Regions from separate parts of the Homo sapiens genome. Here regions 1, 3 and 4 are each reported to be linked to region 2. The links are microRNA targets in miRTarBase. Many come from high-throughput screens and were not tested one by one. Region 2 holds a microRNA gene; each other region holds the end of a gene's coding sequence.

What was found. Region 2 holds the annotated microRNA hsa-miR-1976 (CCUCCUGCCCUCCUUGCUGU, at 3,480-3,499, opposite strand). A microRNA usually pairs through its seed, bases 2 to 8, with sites in the 3' UTR of a target mRNA and lowers its output. Matches are read on the target gene's strand: a 7mer-m8 pairs with bases 2 to 8, a 7mer-A1 pairs with bases 2 to 7 and ends in A, and an 8mer does both.
Region 1: the mRNA of CAV2 is a reported target of hsa-miR-1976. Seed matches in the 3' UTR shown: 7mer-A1 at 2,042-2,048 and 8mer at 2,159-2,166.
Region 3: miRTarBase lists PLEKHM3 as a target of hsa-miR-1976. The part of its 3' UTR that is shown has no 7-base or 8-base seed match.
Region 4: the mRNA of ZNF566 is a reported target of hsa-miR-1976. Seed matches in the 3' UTR shown: 8mer at 2,270-2,277, 7mer-m8 at 2,252-2,258 and 8mer at 1,526-1,533.

Annotation. Positions count from the first base shown.
Region 1 is chr7:116,505,419-116,510,492 of GRCh38, forward strand. It overlaps CAV2 (caveolin 2), which reads left to right. Exons shown (of 3, transcript NM_001233.5): 3 at 553-3,123. The coding sequence ends at 703. Among named protein-coding and RNA genes, the nearest start is that of CAV2, 8.2 kb to the left of the region's middle.
Region 2 is chr1:26,553,001-26,558,072 of GRCh38, reverse strand. MIR1976 (microRNA 1976) reads right to left here and starts at 3,531; the gene lies at 3,480-3,531. It overlaps RPS6KA1 (ribosomal protein S6 kinase A1), which reads right to left. Exons shown (of 22, transcript NM_002953.4): 7 at 4,576-4,682; 8 at 3,822-3,859; 9 at 3,335-3,477; 10 at 2,852-2,922; 11 at 2,448-2,536; 12 at 1,355-1,419; 13 at 973-1,075.
Region 3 is chr2:207,823,984-207,829,057 of GRCh38, forward strand. PLEKHM3 (pleckstrin homology domain containing M3) reads right to left here. Exons shown (of 8, transcript NM_001080475.3): 8 at 1-4,513. The coding sequence ends at 4,336. Among named protein-coding and RNA genes, the nearest start is that of FZD5, 57 kb to the left of the region's middle.
Region 4 is chr19:36,444,853-36,449,926 of GRCh38, forward strand. It overlaps ZNF566 (zinc finger protein 566), which reads right to left. Exons shown (of 5, transcript NM_001145344.1): 5 at 267-5,074. The coding sequence ends at 4,125. Among named protein-coding and RNA genes, the nearest start is that of ZFP82, 29 kb to the left of the region's middle. RefSeq lists an enhancer at 4,199-5,074.

The DNA.
Region 1 (5,074 bases), not on the chromosome of region 2:
GCATTACTATGAAGGAATACCTGAGACTAGGTTATTTATAAAGAAAAGAGGTTTATTTTTGCTCACAGTTCTGCGGGCTGTACAGGAAGCACAGTGCCAGCATCTACTTTAGGCAAGGACCTCAGGAAGCTTCCACTTATAGTGGAAGGAGAAGGAGGAGCAGGCACGTCACATGGCAAGAAAGGGAGCAAGAGAGAGAATGTGGAGGTCCCAGACTCTTTTAGTTAATCAGATCTCAAGCAAACTAACTGAGTGAGAACTCACGTTACCAAGAGGGTGGCAGGCACTAAGACATTCATGAGGGATCTACCCGCTGTGATCCAATTATCCCCACTCGGCCCCACCTCCAACACTGGGGACTACATTTCAAAATGAGAGTCAGGGGGACAAAAAACCCAAATCATTATCAGTGATCATTGTTCATTTATTTGTTTCAAACTCTCAACCAAATTTAAGTAAATGGGTCAGTATTTTATCTTTTCATACATGTACAAGACAGACCTTATTTGGTAACAGCAACAATCCTCACACATCTCTCTTCCTTCCTTCCAGGATTTTAATGCCTTTTGTAAAGACCTGCCTAATGGTTCTGCCTTCAGTGCAGACAATATGGAAGAGTGTGACAGATGTTATCATTGCTCCATTGTGTACGAGCGTAGGACGATGCTTCTCTTCTGTCAGCCTGCAACTGAGCCAGGATTGAATACTTGGACCCCAGGTCTGGAGATTGGGATACTGTAATACTTCTTTGTTATTATAACATAAAAGCACCACTGTTCTGTTCATTTCCTAGCTGTTCTAATTAAGAAAACTATTAAGATGAGCAACCACATTTAGAAATGTTTATTGACAGGTCTTTTCAAATAATGCTTTTCTAATTAATAGCCAAAGATTTCATATCTAACTTTGTAACCAGAATTATACAGTAAGTTGACACCACTTAGATTTAAAGGCAGACAGTTTTGCTTTAGTACAATAGTATACATTTTATAATGATGAACTTATAATGATTAAGGGACATTTCTATAAAAATACTACAATAGTTTTATGCACAACTTCCCATTAAAAATGAGATTTCTTATTTGTTTGTCTGTTTTTACTCTGGGAGTAATACTTTTTAAATTACCTTTACATATATAGTCACTGGCATACTGAGAATATACAATGATCCTGGAAATTGCAGTAACAAAAGCACACAACGATTATAGTAACTATAAGATACAATAAAACAAATAAATATGAAAGTAGATTCATGAAAATGTATTCCTTTAAAATATTGTTTTCCTACAGGCCTATTTAACAAGATGTTTCATTTTACTGTATATTTTGTAGTTAATATAAATGTTGCTCTAATCAGATTGCTTAAAAGCATTTTTATTATATTTATGTTGTTGAACTAATATATGAAATAAGTAAATGTAGCTCCCACAAGGTAAACTTCATTGGTAAGATTGCACTGTTCTGATTATGTAAGCATTTGTACATCTTCTTTGGAAATAAAAGATAAAAGAGCGATACACAAAGCTTTCTTTTCTAACTTTTCCAAGCAAAATCTAAAATGTTTTATGACATTTTTCTGGCTGTGATCTTAAAATAATTCATATCTAAATAGTATTTTGTCTAGGAGATGCTTTCTCTCTAGTAGTTAGAAATTAAATCTGTGTCAGCATTCCTATTAATGTCTCACTTTACTTTCAAGTAATATTGGTGCTATTTAACATTTTACAGTAAATGTTACTTCTGATACTTTAGTACAATTTCAACTACAGTGATTCATGTAGAGAGACAGGGGAGTTGTCAACTTGGGCTACTGAACTACATGCATAAACTAAAAACTAACAGCTACAAACTTTTAAGATTTCTCTAATATTGGTATGTAACACAGGATAAAGTTATTCTTGTCATTTTGAACTGTAGAGTCCTATTTCAGTGTGATGAATCACTGTTGCTTTGAAAAATCTCATTATTTCTGGGCCGGGCATGGTGGCTCACCCCTGTAATCCCAGCACTTTGGGAGGCCAAGGCGGGTGGATCATGAGGTCAGGAGATCAAGACCATCCTGGCCAACATGGTGATACCCCGTCTCTACTAAAAATACAAAAAAATTAGTTGGGCATGGTGGCATGCACCTGTAGTCCCAGCTACCTGGGAGGCTGAGGCAGGAGAATTGCTTGAACCTGGGAGGCAGAGGTTGCAGTGAGCCAAAATCATGCCACTGCACTCCCGCCTGGCAACAGAGCAAGAGTCTGTCTCAAAAAAAAAAAGAAAAAAAGAAAAAAAGAAAAAAGAAAAATCTCATTATTTCAAAATGATAGACATATACCAAAAACAAGTCTATAATGTGAGTAGTTACTAAAATTTACACATCTTAAAAGTGTGTAAATGCTTAAATTTCAGAATTACCATCAGAACCTCAATTGACATTCCTTTGAATACGCTAATAAGTGACAAATAAGATTAATAAGATTTTTCAAAATCGCCAGGACTGGTGAATATAAATGATGATTGAACTGGAATAATATTGGGGACCAAATCAAATGAATGATTAAATTATGAAGCTCATATCCTTTTGAAGGTAGTTGCAAAGAGACATTTCAAAACTGCCCTAGGCCATTGCAGCATCCTTAGATGGGACGCATAATCATTACCTTAAAGCATCACCACTCATTTTGACCATATAGATTTTATTATGTTAGTTTAAAAGGTCAATCAGCCTCATGACTTTATAGTTATGTCTTGTATTTAAAAACATTTTTTATACATTTGGTTATGTTGATAAACCAAAAACATTTGATTAATAAAATATCTATTTGAATAAATTATGAGCTATCCTTTCAAACAGCTATTGGCAAGTTTTAAACCCAAAATATATACACATAGTTCTGTAATAAAACTGTTTGACTTCTCAAGTAACATGACTTCCTTATTTCTGAACAGTACTGGTTACTTTCAAAATGAATTTTTATTGAGATTTTCCATTAACTATTTTTTTCAAAGACTCAAATTTTGTACCAAGTAAATCCAGGCTTTATGTACAAACATGTTGTTTGTTTTATTTGGGGCTGGGGGAGGTATATGATGAGCAGACTTCTCGGAATTCATAATAAATTTTCTAAAAGCCTACAAATGTGTGTATTGCTTTTATTACAGTAAATATGGAATCTTTCATACTTATTTTTACCTTATTAAAAACTCAAAATAGATAATAAATACATTAGTTATTGCTTATTTGGGAATGTATTTTTAAAAATTATTACATTAGTAGTTGAATTCTTTGTTTTCCAGCACTTAAAGAGGTTCCATATAAATGTTCTATCATTTGATGAATAGTATAAAATAGCCTGTTCACACACCCACCATACTTCTTCTTTTTTATAGTCTCTTCTTGCTAATCCTAAATAAACTGAAATTTGTTTCCAATTTTTAAAATAAGAAAGTAACAATATAAATCACAGGCACTTGGATACCTGTACCATGAAGCTAGACTAGAGTCCAAAATTATTTTTGGAAAGTGAGTATGTGAAGAGTAGTTGCTGATGTTGGCATACATTTTCTTGTCAGTTCATCTGGAAAAACGACCAACCTATAATAATAAAGCAGGTGCTTGGCTTTTTAAAATGTTCTTTATAGTTTTCAGGAACTTTTAAAAATTCATCTTTTTGATAGTCATCCACATCCCATTAATTTATTTTGATGCCTCTCTTGGAAAGTTGTTGGAGTGTAGTGAAAAAAGCCCTGCCCTAGAAGTCAGGCAACTGGATTCCAGTCTCAGCATTGCCGTTATTGAGGTGTATCCCTTCATGCAAAGGGTTTAATCTTGGGTTCTCAGTTTTCTTATCGTTAATGAAAGAATTGAACTAAATGGTCTCTCAGGAGCTTCCTATCTCATTGTTTTCTGTGACTTCAGCAGGATGAAAACTTGGCTATGTATATGAAAACCAACCTAGCTGTCCAGTCCAAAAATATTTTTTTAAATCAGTGAATTTTCAATCAATTACAGGATAGGTGTGCTATAAATACAATAATTAATGCATGTACTTTTCACCCTTCTATTGATTGTGAGACTGTATTTGGCCTCAATTCATTAAAACAGAGATCCTAAGATTTTTATCAATGCTAAGTCTTTATTATTATGAATTTCTGAAAAAAATTATATCTTAATTAGAATTTGCGATTGAACCTTTAACAACATGGGGTTGAACTGCTCAGTCCACTTATACTCAGATTTTTTTTCAGTAAATACAGTTAGCCTTCCGTATCCACAGGTTCCTCATCCACCATCAAACTGGATCCAAAATAGAGTATTGCAAGATGCAAAACCCTCAGACAAGGAGGGCTGACTTTTCACCTCCTTGGGTTCTGCAGGGATGACGGGATTTAAGTATGCAAGGATTTTTATATCTGCAGGGGAATTCTAGAACCAATCCCTCAAGGGTACCGAGGAATGACTCTATTTCATTTTAAGATTTTCTGTCAAAATCACTGCTATGCCCCATAATCACTGCCATCTTTCTCTTTTGCCTGGCTATTTGCCACAGCCTCCTAACTGACCTCACTTCCTGCCTTCAATATGATCACCAATCCATTTTTCTCTTAAAAAAAACGTGATTATACCAAGACTACCCTGTCATTTCCTTGCTTAAAACTATCAATTGTATGTGATTGCCCTGAGAATAATATTCCAAGTTCTTGAGCAGCATATGCAAGGCCTTCGCCATCAACCCGTTGTCATCGTTAGCAACTCTTCTGTAGCTTTACTGAACAACCCGTGCTACTCCTGTGTACCCATGCCAGCATTGTTTTTCTTCTCATGCCTGCCTCACTCTTATCTGTTTCCAAAACTCTTCCACATTAAGTGCCTCTTCTGTGTCTACATCTAAAATGTTGTACAAATTCCTATTATCACCTGTCACGTTGTAAAAGTAACCCTGTTAACTAATACCATTAGACTGCTAGTTAGGTATTTGAGAACCAAAAACATCACTTCACGTTTGCTGGGATTCTGAAATGGTGCCCAGTGCTTAATGAGTTCCATCAATATTTTCTGTATGAATGATTATGTAAATAAATAACT
Region 2 (5,072 bases):
TGGATCACCTGAGGTCAGGAGTTCGAGACCAGCCTGGCCAACATGGTGAAACCCCGTCTCTACTAAAAATACAAAAATTAGCCAGGCGTGCTGACACATGCCTGTAATCCCAGCTACTCGGGAGGCTGAGGCAGGAGAATCTCTTGAACCCAGGAGGTGGAGGTTGCAGTAAGCTGAGATCACGCCATTGCATTCCAGCCTGGGCAACAGAGCGAGACTCCATCTTGAAAAGAGGAGAGGAGAGGGAAGGGAAGGAGAGGGAAGGGGAGGGGAGGGGAGGGGAGGGGAGGGGAGGAGAGGGGAGGGGAGGAGAGGAGAGAAGAAAAGCACACCCTCTCCTAAAACATGCCCTTATAGGAGGTTTCCCAGAACATTCCACCCCACACCCACTGTCAATATCTGGCCAAAAAGTTAGGATTCACCAGGTTCCTTCCCAGAAGCTCCCTCACTGGCTTCTTGTAGCAACCCCAGGGAATGAGTGGGTTTGTGGCTGTGCCCTTGTTCCAGATAAGTACACGGAGGCCGGGCAGTCAGGGCAGCCAAAGCTGATTCCCATGCCTGTCCCTGACCTATGGGCACTGTCACCTCTGCTCAGCCACCACACAGTGTGGCTGGGTCAGATTCTTTCTCCCTGACGTGATGGTAAGCCTGATGTGTTTGGTCTTCCCAGTGGGCTGGAAGGTGCCCCGGGCAGGGGTCCTGGCTTTTCTACTGTGGCCTTCACCACCCACACATCCCCACTCCCACTCTCTCACCAGACACAAAGAGACCCACAGAGCCCCATAGTGAGAGAGTCGGGCGGAGTGAGACAGGGACAAAGTCAGTCCCACGGAGCCAGAAACTCACCCGCCTGCCCACCCGCATACCTCGGCCTGTCAGTGTCCCTGACTATCTCTGCCCCCCAAGCTGCCACCGACTCCCGGCTTCCCTCCTGTACCAGCCCAAGACAGACAAAACAGATAAGGGACGCACCCTTGGGTGTGCGGGACGTGAACTCGGTGTCAAAGTAGAAGGTGTCATCAGGCTGAGCCACTGCTGGCTTGAAGGGTGGCTTGATCTCACGACGGTATAGCTTCTGCACAGTGGGGTGGGCACTCTGGTCACCATGGCATCCTCAACAGCCCACCAGGAGCCCCATGCAGGAGGAGGTGCTGGGCTTGGAACATAGGCCATATTGCCCAGCTCTCGGAATTGCTTGCCCTCAGGAGGCCAGCCCTTGTCTTCAAGGGCAGGCTGTGACCCTCTGCTCCTGCGTCTGGGGCCCTCGCTGGCAGAGGCTCCCCTCCCACCACCCTTCCTGTGGCCAAGATGGCTGAGCCCTGGCCAGAGCCCTGGTGTGGGTGGACACACTCACATTCCAGTCAATGGTGGAGTAGAAGACATGCCGCTTGATTTCCTCTGCCCCATCAGGGCCGGAGCCTGAAAGAGCCCAAATGAAGGGTCTGTCCCTGGCTGGCACAAGTCCCAGATATTACCCTGCCCACCAAGCAGCCTCACAGGGCTCTGGGACCAGCTGCTGGAGCAGAGGGGAAAATGGGCTCACTCAGCCTCAAATCTACCCAGCCATCACCCTAAGGCCTGTCACCTACTCAGCATTTTCCACTTTCTGGAGCTTCTGATGAAGAAATTCCAATGTACCAGTGGGAGGAGGAAGGCCCAGAGACTTTAGGCAACTTCTCCAAGGCCACACAGTTAGAACAGAAGCTGAGCTTGTTCTGAGACCTACAGAGAGCCCCACCTCATTCCAAGGCAAGCCTCATCTCTGTTCCTCTTATCCCATTGACCTTTTCAACCATAGGACAGGCTGTTACTCCATTCGACCCCAGGGGCCTTGACTGGACCTTACACAGCTGGTCATGGACCAGATGAACCCAGGAGCCAGGGAAGCCAGCACACACTGGACACCTACTACATGCCGGCATGTTCACACAACCTCATTTCATCAACAGAGCCCTGAAGCAAGCTTGGGATCATCATCTCCCATTGAGACGAGGAACCTGCGGTGCAGAGAGGTGAAGTCACCTGCCTGGGGTCACTTAGTTCATAAGTGGCCTCATTCGTTTAACAAATATTTATAGAGGGACTGTTTTGTGCCAGGCAGTGGGGACCTGACACAGAGCCGGGATTGGGACCTATGCCTTCTGACTCCTGAGCTCATGCTATTTCTCTTGTGCCAGCAGCCTTGGCGGAGAAGCTGTGTGGGGGCCTCTGTCCTTGTCCCCAGAGGGAGTAGGGATGACTCAGTTCCTGCCTTCCCCCTACACACAGGTCAACTCCCCCCTCCACAACACCACACATGGAGCCAGAAAGCAGGGTGGCCCGCGGCATTGTCTGCCCACACAAAGGACAACGGCCCCTTTCAGCCCAGATGTGGCCCTGTGGCCTAGGCTGCAGCTGTACCCGGCTCCCCATCGCCACATCCCCTCCCCTGAGCTGGGGCTGCTTACCGAGCCGGTTGGCAGGATTCCGCTTGAACAGGGCCCGCAAGAGGCTCTGGGCTTCAGTGCTCAGAAACTGGGGCATGCCTAGCTTCGCCCTGAAACAGCCCCCGGGACTCATCAAGGCTGAGCCCTGCCCCAGAGGCCCCATCTCCCCCGGCCCCTGTCCAGATCTAGTTCCCAGCTCAGTCTAGACAAGCCATCCACTAATTCACTTCCCAAAGGCTTCAGGGATCCTACCCACAGGCCCCCAGGGATGAAAGAGGGGCTCTGGAAGGTATAATGTTTAACCCAGAGGAGAGTCTCATTAGAGAGGGTAGCTGAGGCAGGGACAGGGTAATAATATTCTGACCCCCAAACTGGGGCTGGGGCTTGGAGGAGTCCATTGTTATCAGGGCAGGGCTGGGGCTTACTTCAGAATCAGTGTCATGGTCTCCTTCCGGTCCTTCCCCTGGAAGGGCAGGGAGCCCGTCAGCATCTCAAACTGCAGAGGACAAGGATCTATTCAGGCTCTGATCCCTGTCTCCGACACACCTCCCGCCTCCTCCCAGTCAGACCCCTCTGCCCCAGTCCCAGGATTCTTGCTGATACATCCAAGTCAGCCTGGAGCAAGAATTATGCCCGTCCCTCTTGCCTCTGCCAACCAGACCACCAGGAGCAGCGGTGGGGGCGCGAGGCTGGGGAGAAGGCCAGCACTGGGTTAGGCGCGTCCCAGGTGGGGTCAAGCCTGGGATCCTTCCAAGGAAGAAAACTGCAGGTGCATATAGGGTGAGGCCAGCTTGGCTGTGAGAGGAGACGGGGAGAGCCCTAGAAATGATCAACCCCCTCACTGTACAGATAGGGAGACTGAGGCCAGAGGCTTGGGCTGGATCCTTTACCCCTGTCTGGGCACTCACCATCAACACCCCATAGGACCACCAGTCCGCACTATGGGAGTGGCCCTGGCGGTTGACGACCTCAGGGGCCATGTACTCCACTGTCCCGCAGAAAGAATAGGCCTTCTTCTCGTGGTCAATGGCCTCTTTGCTCAGGCCAAAGTCTACAGCAAGGAGGGCAGGAGGACACACCTTAGGACCCCTGCCTTCCTTGCTGCCACCCTTTGCACACCCAACCCCCGTGCCCAGAGGCCAGAAGGCATCACCCCCATGACACTCAGGAGGAAGCTAAGGCCCAGAGAGGTCAGGTGACTTGCTCAACGTTACACAATGAGGGGCTGGGATTCCAGCTGAGGGTGTTCCAAGTCTGAGGCCTGAGTTTTTGACCACTTCCAAGTAACTGGCACGGCTTCTCGGGAAGAATGAGCCCCCAGCACTCAGCCGAGACCTATCATGACCTTGTCCTGTCCTCCCCTGGGTCCCGAGGGGGCAGGCGCCCTCCACTCACCAGTGAGTTTGATGTGGCCCTCCTCATCCAGAAGGATGCTGTAATAGAGAAATAGTGGTCAGGGCCCCTCAGCTGTGGCCGTGTGGGTGATGGTGTTACCACAGGGCTGTGGGAGTTGGGTTCAGCCCAGAGGAGGTGCTCCACCCAATTCTCTCTGATGACTGGGCGGGTGTTGCAGGGTGGTAGCAGTACCACGCAGGGGTGTTGCCTATCTTTTTTGCTAATCCTTGAAGCAACTGTGTGAGGCAAGTACTATTAGGGCCCCGTTTTGCTAATGGGAAAACTAAGGCTCAGGGCAGTTAAGTAGCTCTACAGTCATTGAGCTAGTAAGTCTAGCTAGTAGGTGGAGACAGGATTTGAATACAGGGCTGCCTAACACTAAAGCCAGATCTTATTCCAACTCACCACCTGCCCCTGGCTCCTTAGTTATCATTTGAGGGTAGTTAGATATTAGGGAAAATTCTATAGGGCTTTATCAAGGAAAGACCTCTAAAGGTGGCATCTCAAATGTCACACTAGATTAGCAAAAAAAGACGGGCAACATTACCTGCATGCAAAGTACCTGGCCCTTGGTAATGGTAGCATTAGTGACTGGGCAGCTGGCACTACCACCCACCCCACTCACCCATCCCTCAGATTGCCCAAGAGAGGGAGACGTTTCTGGAGAAAGCCATGCCCACCCACCTCAGGATGGCCCTGTCCTAGAAGAGGCCTCCCCTGGGGAGGCTGGGGTGGGGCTGGAGGCTTCACTCACTTCTCAGGCTTGAGGTCTCTGTAAATGATACCCAGGCTGTGCAGGTGATCCAGGCCCAGAGCCAGCTCAGCCAGGTAAAACTTCACATCCTCCTCCGTGAACATCACCTGCAAAAGACAGGAGGGGCCTTCAGCAGGGACCTCCTCTTCCTTAAGAGCTGGGGCACTGGGCAGTCAGCAGCTTCCTGGTCCTGAAGAGCCACCCTGGGAGGACCCTTGGAAACCCCAGGCCATATAGCCTTCTCATCATACAAAGGATTTGAAGTATGAAATGACTAATACGCAAGCCACTCATTGTGGCACCATTCAGAAATAGAAGGGGTGGGAAACAGGCCTAGGGTCCAAGAGTAGAAGGCTGGAATCAGCCCTCTCCCCTGCATAATGGAGTGCTTTGCAGCCATGAACTGGAACAAGGAGTTTCTCCGTGTTCTGACATGGAGTGAGCTCCAAGATATACTATCTTGAAAAAAGCAAGGTACAGAACAGTGTATACAGAAT
Region 3 (5,074 bases), not on the chromosome of region 2:
GAAATCAACACTTGTCTGTTTACATTAACCGAGCAGAGCTTAGTCACCCATCACTGGATTCGACCTCGAGCAGACAGCTCTACCTGACTCAGGGTCGGAAGAGTGATACAAGGTGTGCAACATATGAAGCTCCTAATGCCCATCACTAACAAGTGACACGGAGGCAGGGGAAACAGAGAGTGCCGCTACCGATTCAGGTCACGCAAAGGAGGGAGGCTCTTTCAAGGTCTTGCTCCAACTTCACGTTTTCACATTATTTCAGAGTAAGAAAAGAAGTGGTGCAGACAACTCAAGAAATAAAATGGGCAAAAATTATACACATCTCTATTTACTAGGAGAAGTAAAAAAATAAAACAACCCCTGTGTTGAAACCAGGCAGTATTGGAATCAGGAGGTGAAGATCTGTTTCATAATCTAGTGATTTCAAGAGAGTGTGTCAGATCAACGGAGATGAATAATTGTGCACAAATACACGAGCAACAGCATTGGCTTGACTCTAAAGGAGGACCAGAATGTGTCTCTACTTCCACTGCTAACGCCCCTCTGCAGAAAATGTTCAGTGTGCGTGGCATCGTGCTAGTCCCACCTGGATATACTAATTTATGGACGGCCTTTTCTAGCCAATGGGTAGAGAACAAACTCCCAGGTTTGGAAGCCAAGCCTCTCTGAGGAGGCACAGAAAAGAACTATCCGATGTCCACGTTCAGTGTGTACACACAACACACAGAGACAAAAACAGAGGCCAGGCTCCGTCAGAGGACACACTCTAGCTGAGCAAAGGCTGCATTCGGCAACTAGGGTGGTGTAAACACCTCGGATCTCACTGCAGCCGGAAGGAAGTCACGGCATAGTCCCTTTTCAGGAGTCTGAGGGATACCACTTGTGTTGCAAACCACAGATCCCAAGTATTAGACGTATTCCCTTCTTGGTGGAGGCCTACTCTAGAAGAATCAAAAACCGATGACCCTCTCAGCGAATCCGATGTTAAAGCTCCTAACTAGGTGACCCTTTAGCACTACAGACGTAAAAATGACTCTAATGCACTCCCTAGAAAAGGCAGTGAAGCAAAGGGGGCTGCTGAGAGTTTACATGGTTTTCATATAAAGAGGCTTTTAACTTTGGAAAAAGCGGGCCTGGAAAGAACACTACCCCCATTCCAGTTGACGGCTTTTTAAGTACTTTGTGGCCTTCCTGCCGCGGTGCAAAATGAGGTCTATTTTAGGAACTGGCTTCTTTACTGCGGGGTTAGATGCCAACATTTCACCAGGGTTGGACGATCTCACACATGAGTTTCTGGCACTTTTAGGAGGGATTTCCTCAAGTGATACACTAGGGAATGAGCCTTTCAGCAAAAAGCGGTTCCCCGGAGTCAGTTGCCAGCTCCAGGAGATTAATTGGCCATTTTTTCATATGTTTTATGTGCAAGATATTTAATATGGGATGAAAAATGGAACACGAGGAAAAGCAGGTATTAGTTTGGTCTGAAAGAGGTGGTAATCCACAGATTTGCTTTTGTTTCGACAGTTTCTAAGCAGTGGAACAATTACCTAACAGTGCACCAAGTAATTTGTTAAAGTTGAAAACAGTAAGGGCGTTCATGTGCGCCAAGGTATTCTGGGCTGAAAACAGCAATTTTGAATTTTCATGGCAGACCCAACTCCTAAGCTGGCTCCACTCTGTCCTATCAGATTTTGGTGGTGGTGGCAGAGAATGTCATAGGCCTGTGGCTGGCACCGACCAAGCTGTCAGGGTGGTACGAAAAGGAGAGGAAACAGGAGTGCTGGACATGGACCCAGCTCTGGGTAGCTGATGGTGATAACACATCGATTTTTTGTTTCCCTTTTGAAAATAAGCAGAAAATGATGTGGGTGGAAAGTCCTCCTTAGGAGTTCACAGGGACTGCTCGTATTTAGCAGGGCCCTCTAAATGGGGACTGGTGAAAACAAAGATGTTTTGAACGGGGATCCAGAATTTCGCCCTTGACTCTCGGCAGGTATGACCCTGGGTGCCTGTGAGCTAGGAGAGGAAATTCTGTATGCAGGGCAAACATGTTACAAGGGGAGGAGATGGCACTGCACTTCAGGTCTCCAAATGCAGTGTGCTAGGAATGGCCTCGCTGACAGTTGGAATCACGGATACATTAATTACAGCGAAGGCAAAAGTAAGCTACAGTGACAGGGAGCTGGGGGCGGAGGGAGAAGGCACTTTGCCATGGGAGCACATCTGTTTTATAATAAGCAGGTCTATAATTCTCTTGTGAAAGATCATGTTCTGCTATCTTCTCTGAGGCTGGAAAATATAAATACTGTATTTTACCAAGAGGAGGAGGAAAGGAGATGATCAAATTTGTTTGCCTGTTGCCAAGTGTTTGAGATTTTCCACCCTTTTTCTTTTGTGTGCAACATTCTCTTTAACTAGAGTGGGGGAAAAGTCAACCTGCTTTTCTAAGGGTAAAAGGCACCGTCAGGCGTCTCATGAATAGGGCCCTGGCCTTTTAACAAGTTTTCAAGCCTTGGTTGCGGCTACTGTATAGTCAGAAAATAAATGCATGTATGGTGTTGAGCTATTAAGGTGAAATGTGTGGCCTGGGGCCAAAGGAACTGGTGTGGGTTGAGAGGTAAAATGCTTACATCTAACTGCACAAAAGTCAGTCTGAAATGTCACATCTCTAGATGGATGGAAGTATCATGAGTTGGGGTCTTGGGGAAGCGGCGTGTGGGGGAAAGGAGCAATGGGGTTGAATGTACCAAGTATGTTGTGAGCCACTGATCCTAATAGCAGCAAAACTACTAAACCATGAAGACATAGAAGGCATCTGCTCAGCGCGAAAGCTACAGAATCTTCTCATAAAGTCTACTGAGAACTGTTCCATTATAAACATATTTTTCTTGCTCTAGGGAGAGTTAAGGGGAAGGAATGGGAGCTGTCAGGGTCCCAGGGCTGTCCTACCTGCCGTTTTGGTCACAGTGACTGCCACGTGCTCTTCCAAGGGCACTGCAGCTGGAGAACACTACCTGCCAAATAGCAAAGCAGATCTCTTTCTTACTCCTATTATTTATTTTAGCACTCTTTGTTTTACTTCAAGGTGGCAATTATATATGTGTGTGTATATATATATATTTATTTAAATAATATTAGATCTAATTCATTAATTATACTTGTAAGTTTGTATTTTCTTAATAGTCCAAAGTTGGTATTTTGAAGTTCCACATTACTCTGATTTTTTAAACAAAAAAATGAGAAAGCAAGAATGGTCACATTGACAAAGGTCGAAATGAAAGTGCAGGAAGAACAACGAGAAATAAAGCACTTAAAATGAATAGGTAGGAACTGCCTCCACAGGATTCTGAGAAAAGAAACTAAAACGACCCTCTTTGGGAATATACTTACTAGATAGCCTTATCTACCAGTCTACACGACGATGTCTTTAACAACCACCCCAGGACATTTCCTCCGGCCAGCATCATGAAAAAAATCATAAATATCAACCATGGGCACCCGTTGAAAACTGTTAAGAAAGCCATGTGTACAGCCTGGAAAACACGGTGGAGCGTCACATCATTAGGTGGGTGATGGGATTAGTACCGAAAAACAGACCGACAACACGCAGTTATTGGTCGCAGAGGTTTCTTCTCTTCTCAGGAAAAAAACTTCTGAGATTAACTTCAAAACCAGAACCAGCCCTCCTCATAAATGAGGGGTGTATGCTTTCTGTCAGAGGGGGCTTGGCTCCTGTTTCCAGCCATCGGCTCTGCTTACGTGATTCCCCGCCTCCACAGGAGGAACTGAGGCGGGAGCGCCACGGACACCAGGTCCTGGAAGGACCCAGCAGTCTCTTGTGTTTTGAAGGTTTTCTTATGAAACAGATGATGATGGGTGCCTGCCTCAGTTACCTCAGCCTCTGTGAAGGCTAAAAATAAATAACACAAAAATAACCTAAAGCACTGTTTTGTGCAGGAAATGCTTCCTTTTGTGTCTTGGGTAATAAAATGTACCGAGAGACAGAGAGAAAAAAAAAGTCTGAACTATAAAGCATTGTGTATACCACGTTTTGTCTGGGAGCAAGCAGCTGAAATTCTTGGCTAAGTGTAATCCAGCTATTGGTAGTTTCTCGAGCCACAGAGGTTCTGTGGATCGTCTGGACAATGATGTACACAGAGCATACGTACAGGACGTATAGGTATTTGCGTATATATAAATAAATATATATATCTATATCTAGTTGAAGAGGATACATACTCTTCTTCCAAAGGGGTCTAACTGGCTAGTTAGGAGGCCGCTCTGGGGCTGATGGATTGTTGATTGGTGAATCCCTGGCCTTCGGGTCGGCTGGAGTCAGGTGTTCTGGTAGGACAGCTCGAACATGGTGCAAGCCTCCTCTAGACTCTCGTCCATGTTCAGTCTCTGCCAGAAAGACTTCTGCTTCTTCTGCAGCTCTCGGCGAACACACCTCGGGCAGGGGACAGACTTTTCTTTGCATTCAGAATGGAAAACGGCTCCACAGCTTTCACACCTGCAAAAGTCAACCATGGATATGATGAGCAAGACTGAAGCCAGCAAGACACAAATGGGAAGCCCTGTGGCCTCAGGTGCAGCTGGTGGCACAATCTACTGTTCTGGACAACCCTGCCAATGGGAAGGGAGATGACTCACTGAAATGAACTGTTTGTTTTTCCAAAATGCTCAAGGTTGAATTTCACTTGAAAAACATTTTTGCTTTTCTGATCTGAACTAGGGCTTATGAGTGGGGGGGAGTCCGCAGTCACCCAGCAATTCTGGTTATAGTGACAATGGACAGAACACCAGAAGCTCTCCATTGAGAAGGGAATTGGCAGTGACTCTAGAGTGAAATGACAGAAAATGAGAGGGGAGTGCCTCGTGAAAACGCTCGGCACACCAGTGACAGCCACAGCGTTACATCCATGGCGAGGCAGCTTTCTACATCAGTTAACACGAGCTAAGTGGTTCTCTGTTAACTAGCTGCCTTTATTTGACAGTTTGAAAAGATAAAATGACACATTTTCATTTTCTGAATGACATCCTGTGGTCTATGAAATCTTGTGAGTTTTTTAAA
Region 4 (5,074 bases), not on the chromosome of region 2:
TCTATCACCTTATAAGCAGAACTCTAATAAATTTTCAGGTATTACTAGCATATTTTAAGTATTGTGAGACATCACAGTAGATGGTGTTATTATTAGATATTAGAGAGTCAAGAGGATGAAGAGTTATAAAAGAAACCTCAAGATGTGTTAATGAATTCCATTCAGTGTCAATTGTTTATTCATGTAGGATACTCTGCATTTAAACTGAATGAAATTCAAAATATAATCCTAATGGGGTTTTCATTGGAAAATAAATGAGTCAAAAATTCTCATGAAGAAACATCTTTATTTCCAAATAATAAACTATATATTAATAATATATACATACATCTTTATTTCCAAGTAATAAAAGCTATTGAAAAGTGTCAAGGATTGCTAGAATATGGAGAACAGAAATAGATGTGAGCATTTAATATACAACTGATAGTATTTTAATTCAGTAGGAGAAAGGTGAATAATAGTTACTTCTGGCATAACTGGTTTTATTCCTGGATAGAAACAAGTCTGACATCCTGCATTAGATCGTATAATCAATTCCTGATGTATTAAAATATTAAATCTCTGTGTATACACACTCACAGAATCACATATATGAAAAACTGCACTCCACTCCTTTATTCTCTTGCCCTCTGAAATCTTCCAGAAGCAAAACCTTCCTAGGAAACATAGAAAACACTGGAAATGACGCCGGGTGCGGTGGCTCATGCCTATAATGCCAGCACTTTGGGAGGCCGAGGAGGGTGGATCACCTGAGGTCAGGAGTTCGAGACCAGCCTGACCAACATGGAAAAATGCCGTCTCTACTAAAAATACAAAATTTTCCAGGCGTAGTGGCATATACCTGTAACCCCAGCTACTTGGGAGGCTGAGGCAGGAGAATCTCTTGAACCCGGGAGGCGGAGATTGCAGTAAGCCAAGATTGCGCCATTGCACTCCAGCCTGGGAAACAAGAGTGAAACTCTGTCTCAAAACAAAACAAAGCAAAAACACTGGAAATGACTTGGGAAGCTTATTTTATAGAAATAAAACAGACAAGAATACAAAGTGTTTGTTGCAGCATTACTTTTAGATGGCAAAAAAGCGCAAACAATCCATAATATCACAATTGGGAAAGTGGTTGAAAAGGCATTGGTAAATAACACTGTGGAACATACTGTAACCATCAGAAAGACTGTTAGATCATCATCTATTGAAGGAAAATCCAAAATGTACAGTTGAATGTAAAAAAGCAAATTTCAGGGAAATGTATAGTTATCCATTTTTCTGTAAAAACATAATAAAATAATTGTGTGTTAATGTTTTAGCATGAAGAAATATATGGGTAATATACACAACCTTTAAATATTATTCAGAAGAAAATTGACAGAGGGGAGGGAATGAGGAACGGAGAAGGGCAAAGATAATCATTTTTTCTTTCTTTTTTTTTTTTTTTTTTGAGACAGATTTTTTGAGACTCTGTCATGCAGGCTGGAGTGCAGTCAGGATCTCAGCTCACTGCAACCTCCGCCTCCCGGGTTCAAGCGATTCTCCTGCCTCAGCCTTCCGAGCAGCTGGGACTACAGGCACATGCCACCACGCCCAGCTAATTTTTGTATTTTTAGTAGAGATGGGGTTTCACTATATTGGCCAGGCTGCCCCCTGCCTTGGCCTCCCAAAGCACTGGGATTACAGGCGTAAGCCACTGTGCCCAGCCCCTTTTCTTTCTCTTTAATGGTATTGTTTCATTAATTTGGGTGCAAATGCACTATCTCTATAATTTTAGATGAAGAACTTTATAAAAGACATAAGCACACAAGAAAAGAAAGTAAACAAAATCTCATTTGGCAGTTTTCATTTTGATAACGCAAAACATTACAACAGTCCATTTTTAGTAATTCTCTCATTTGCAGGTATTTTTGCTCACTCTACTTTTCTCAAATTTATTATGAAATATTTTACTTCCTTATGCCAGTAAAGTAAAGTAACACAATGTTCAGAGAGACCCGTCTACACAGGATCTAAGAAAAAAGGAAGTGGGGCATAAAATAACAGTTCTACAGACATAAACTTCATCCTTCCACATATGCGATCTGTCCAGCGTGGGGAGCTGCTTGCTGAGCATGTTTTGAGCACAGGGAAGGCCCATTTCAAAACACTAACTTAACCCCAAACAAAGCTACACTGTGGACTTTTTTTTTTTTTTTTTAATAGTCTCATTCTGTCGCTCAGGCTGAAGTGCCATGGCGTGATCTTGGCTCACTGCAACCTCCACCTCCTGCATTCAAGTGATTCTCCTGCCTCAGCCTCCCCAGTAGCTGGGATTACAGGCATGTGCCACCATGCCTGGCTAAGTTTTGTATTTTTGAGTAAAAATGGGGTTTCAACATGTTGGCCAGGCTGGTCTCAAGCTCCTGGCCTCAAATGATCCTTCCATCTCAGCCTCCCAAAGTGCTGGGATTACAGGCGTGAGCCAAGATGTGTACTTCTATATAACTGAAATAGTTCCTTGAACATTTGATAAAGTTTTCCTTAGAAAGAAACTGGATTTGGTGCTTCATTAGTAATAGTTAACTGATCACATGCTAATTTTTCCCTGTTCTCTGTGTTTATGAGAGTCTTTGAAGAGTCCTAATTTTCTTGGAGTCAATATTGATGTATATTTTCCTTAAAAACCATTTTGTTTAAATTTTCAAACATATTAGAAAAAAGCATAATATTCAACAGAACCTTTTAAATCTGTAACTATGTTTCTATCTCTGTCCATTTTTTAAATATGATGCTGTTTCTCTTTTCATACTTTTTTTCCTCATTAGTGCACCAATATTTTGCTTATGTTCTCTTTTCTTTTTTACTGGGTATATAATGCGACAAAAAGAGTATTAGTCGGAATAAAGTCCTTCACACACATTATTCACAGTACTTTCCCCCCCAACACCTAGGATTATTTCATGTTCAATAGTAAGTACATGATGATGGGAAATTTTCTTAACTTGTTACCTTCAAAGGGTCTTTCTTCAGTCAAACACCCTGCCTAATGGTGACTAAGTTCTGCAGAAGTTAAAAAGCCTTTCTACAAATAATAATACTGATGATGATGAATATAATAACGATGACTAACATTCAGTGAGTATGTATTTATCATGTCAGGCACAATTCTAAGCACTTTATCGATCTTAATTCATTTAATCCTCACAAAGCATTATGAGGTAGGTATTATAATTATCCCCCATTTTATAATTTTTACTGAGACACGCATGTATATATGAACAGAAAAATGATCAGCAATAAATAATGAACTGATAAAGACTATCCTTTGGGATATGGTCAAAGGGTACATTTGCCTTTTTGTAATGTTTGCATCTTTTATAAGGAAAATATATTCACACATTACTTCTGCAATTAAAAGATATGATACAAAGATGTGCTTAGGGAGAATGTCCAGCAGGGACTTGTATTTTGGCATGTATTATGGCAAAATATCTAGAGGAGACTACGATATCCACCAATAGGATTTCATAAGTGATATTACAGTAACACAACAAAACACCATGAAGATAATGAAGAATCTCTATTGAGTAAAATGTCGTTCATGAACATTTTTACAATAAGAAAGCCTTAATGTTATAAAGAACAAAAAGAATAAGCCATCTTCAAAAATAAAGAGGTCACTTCTCCCAGGTACTAAAGGTATTTTTAAAATAGTATACAAATCAGGATGTAAACAGATGAAATTTATAGCCATATAAATTTAATATGGATTAAAATACTAAGAATGTAACAATTAGAGAAATTAGGGGAAAAAATGACAATCACAGGACTACATTTCTACAAAAATTCTCTGACGTTAAGAAGGTTAGAAAGGTGTTAAAAGTGCTGTCATTTTCAGTATGACAGACTGAATTATCTATCATATTGCTAGACTGAATTATCTGATGTCAAGAGAAGTAAGCGTTTAGTTAAGGGCTTCCAAAGTATATTCTATTCATAGAGTATTTCTCCAACATTATTTTTCCCAGGCTGAATAAGCTGTAGTCCACAAATAAAATGTTTCTACATTATTCTATCTAGAGGAATTATTAACAAGATAAATTCTGTTTTGAGCCATAATTAAAAGCCTCCCTACACATTTCATATATTCTGTTTCATCACCAGTACAAATTTTGATGCTGAATAAGTTGTGGGTCATAATTAAAGTTCTTTCCACATTCCCTATATTCATAGGGTTTCTCACTAGTATGAATTCTATGATGACTAATAAGCTGTGAACTCTGAGAATAAGCCTTCCCACATATCTTACATTCATAGGGTTTCTCCCCAGTATGAATTCTCTGATGTCTAGTAAGGTCTGAGCCAGAACGAAAAGCCTTTTCACATTCCTTACATTCGTAAGGTTTCTCACCTGTATGGATTCTTTGATGTTTAATAAGTTGTGAGCTCTGACTAAAGGCATTGCCACATTCCTTACATTCATAGGGTTTTTCCCCAGTATGAATTCTCTGATGTTGAGTAAAGTTTGAGCCACTACTAAAGGCCTTCCCGCATTCTTTGCATTCATAAGGCTTCTCACCTGTGTGAATTCTCTGATGTCGAGTGAAGTTTGAACCACTACTAAAGGCTTTCCCACATTCCTTACATTCATAGGGTTTCTCACCAGTGTGAATTCTGTGATGTCGAGTAAGGTCTGAGCCACAAATAAAGGTTTTTCCACATTCCTTACATTCAAAGGGTTTCTTGCCAGTATGAATTTTCTGATGATGAGTGAGTCTTGAGGGATGTCTAAAGGACTTTCCACATTCCTTACATTCATAAGGCTTCTCAATGGTATGAATTATCTCATGTGTAGCAAACTGTGAGCCATGTCTAAAGGTTTTCCTATATTCTTTAGATGCACAGAATTTCTTTTTACTGTTAATGATTTGCTGTAATGTGAAGGATGGATGGTGACTCAAAGTGGGCAGATCTTCATGAGTGAATACCAATTGATTGAAATGTCCCCCCTGAGAGCCGAGTTCTTTCTTAAACTGCCGATTACATTCCCAATCATCTCTGAAACTGGAGCACTGAAAATCACGTCTTGTGAGTTTTTCCATTATTT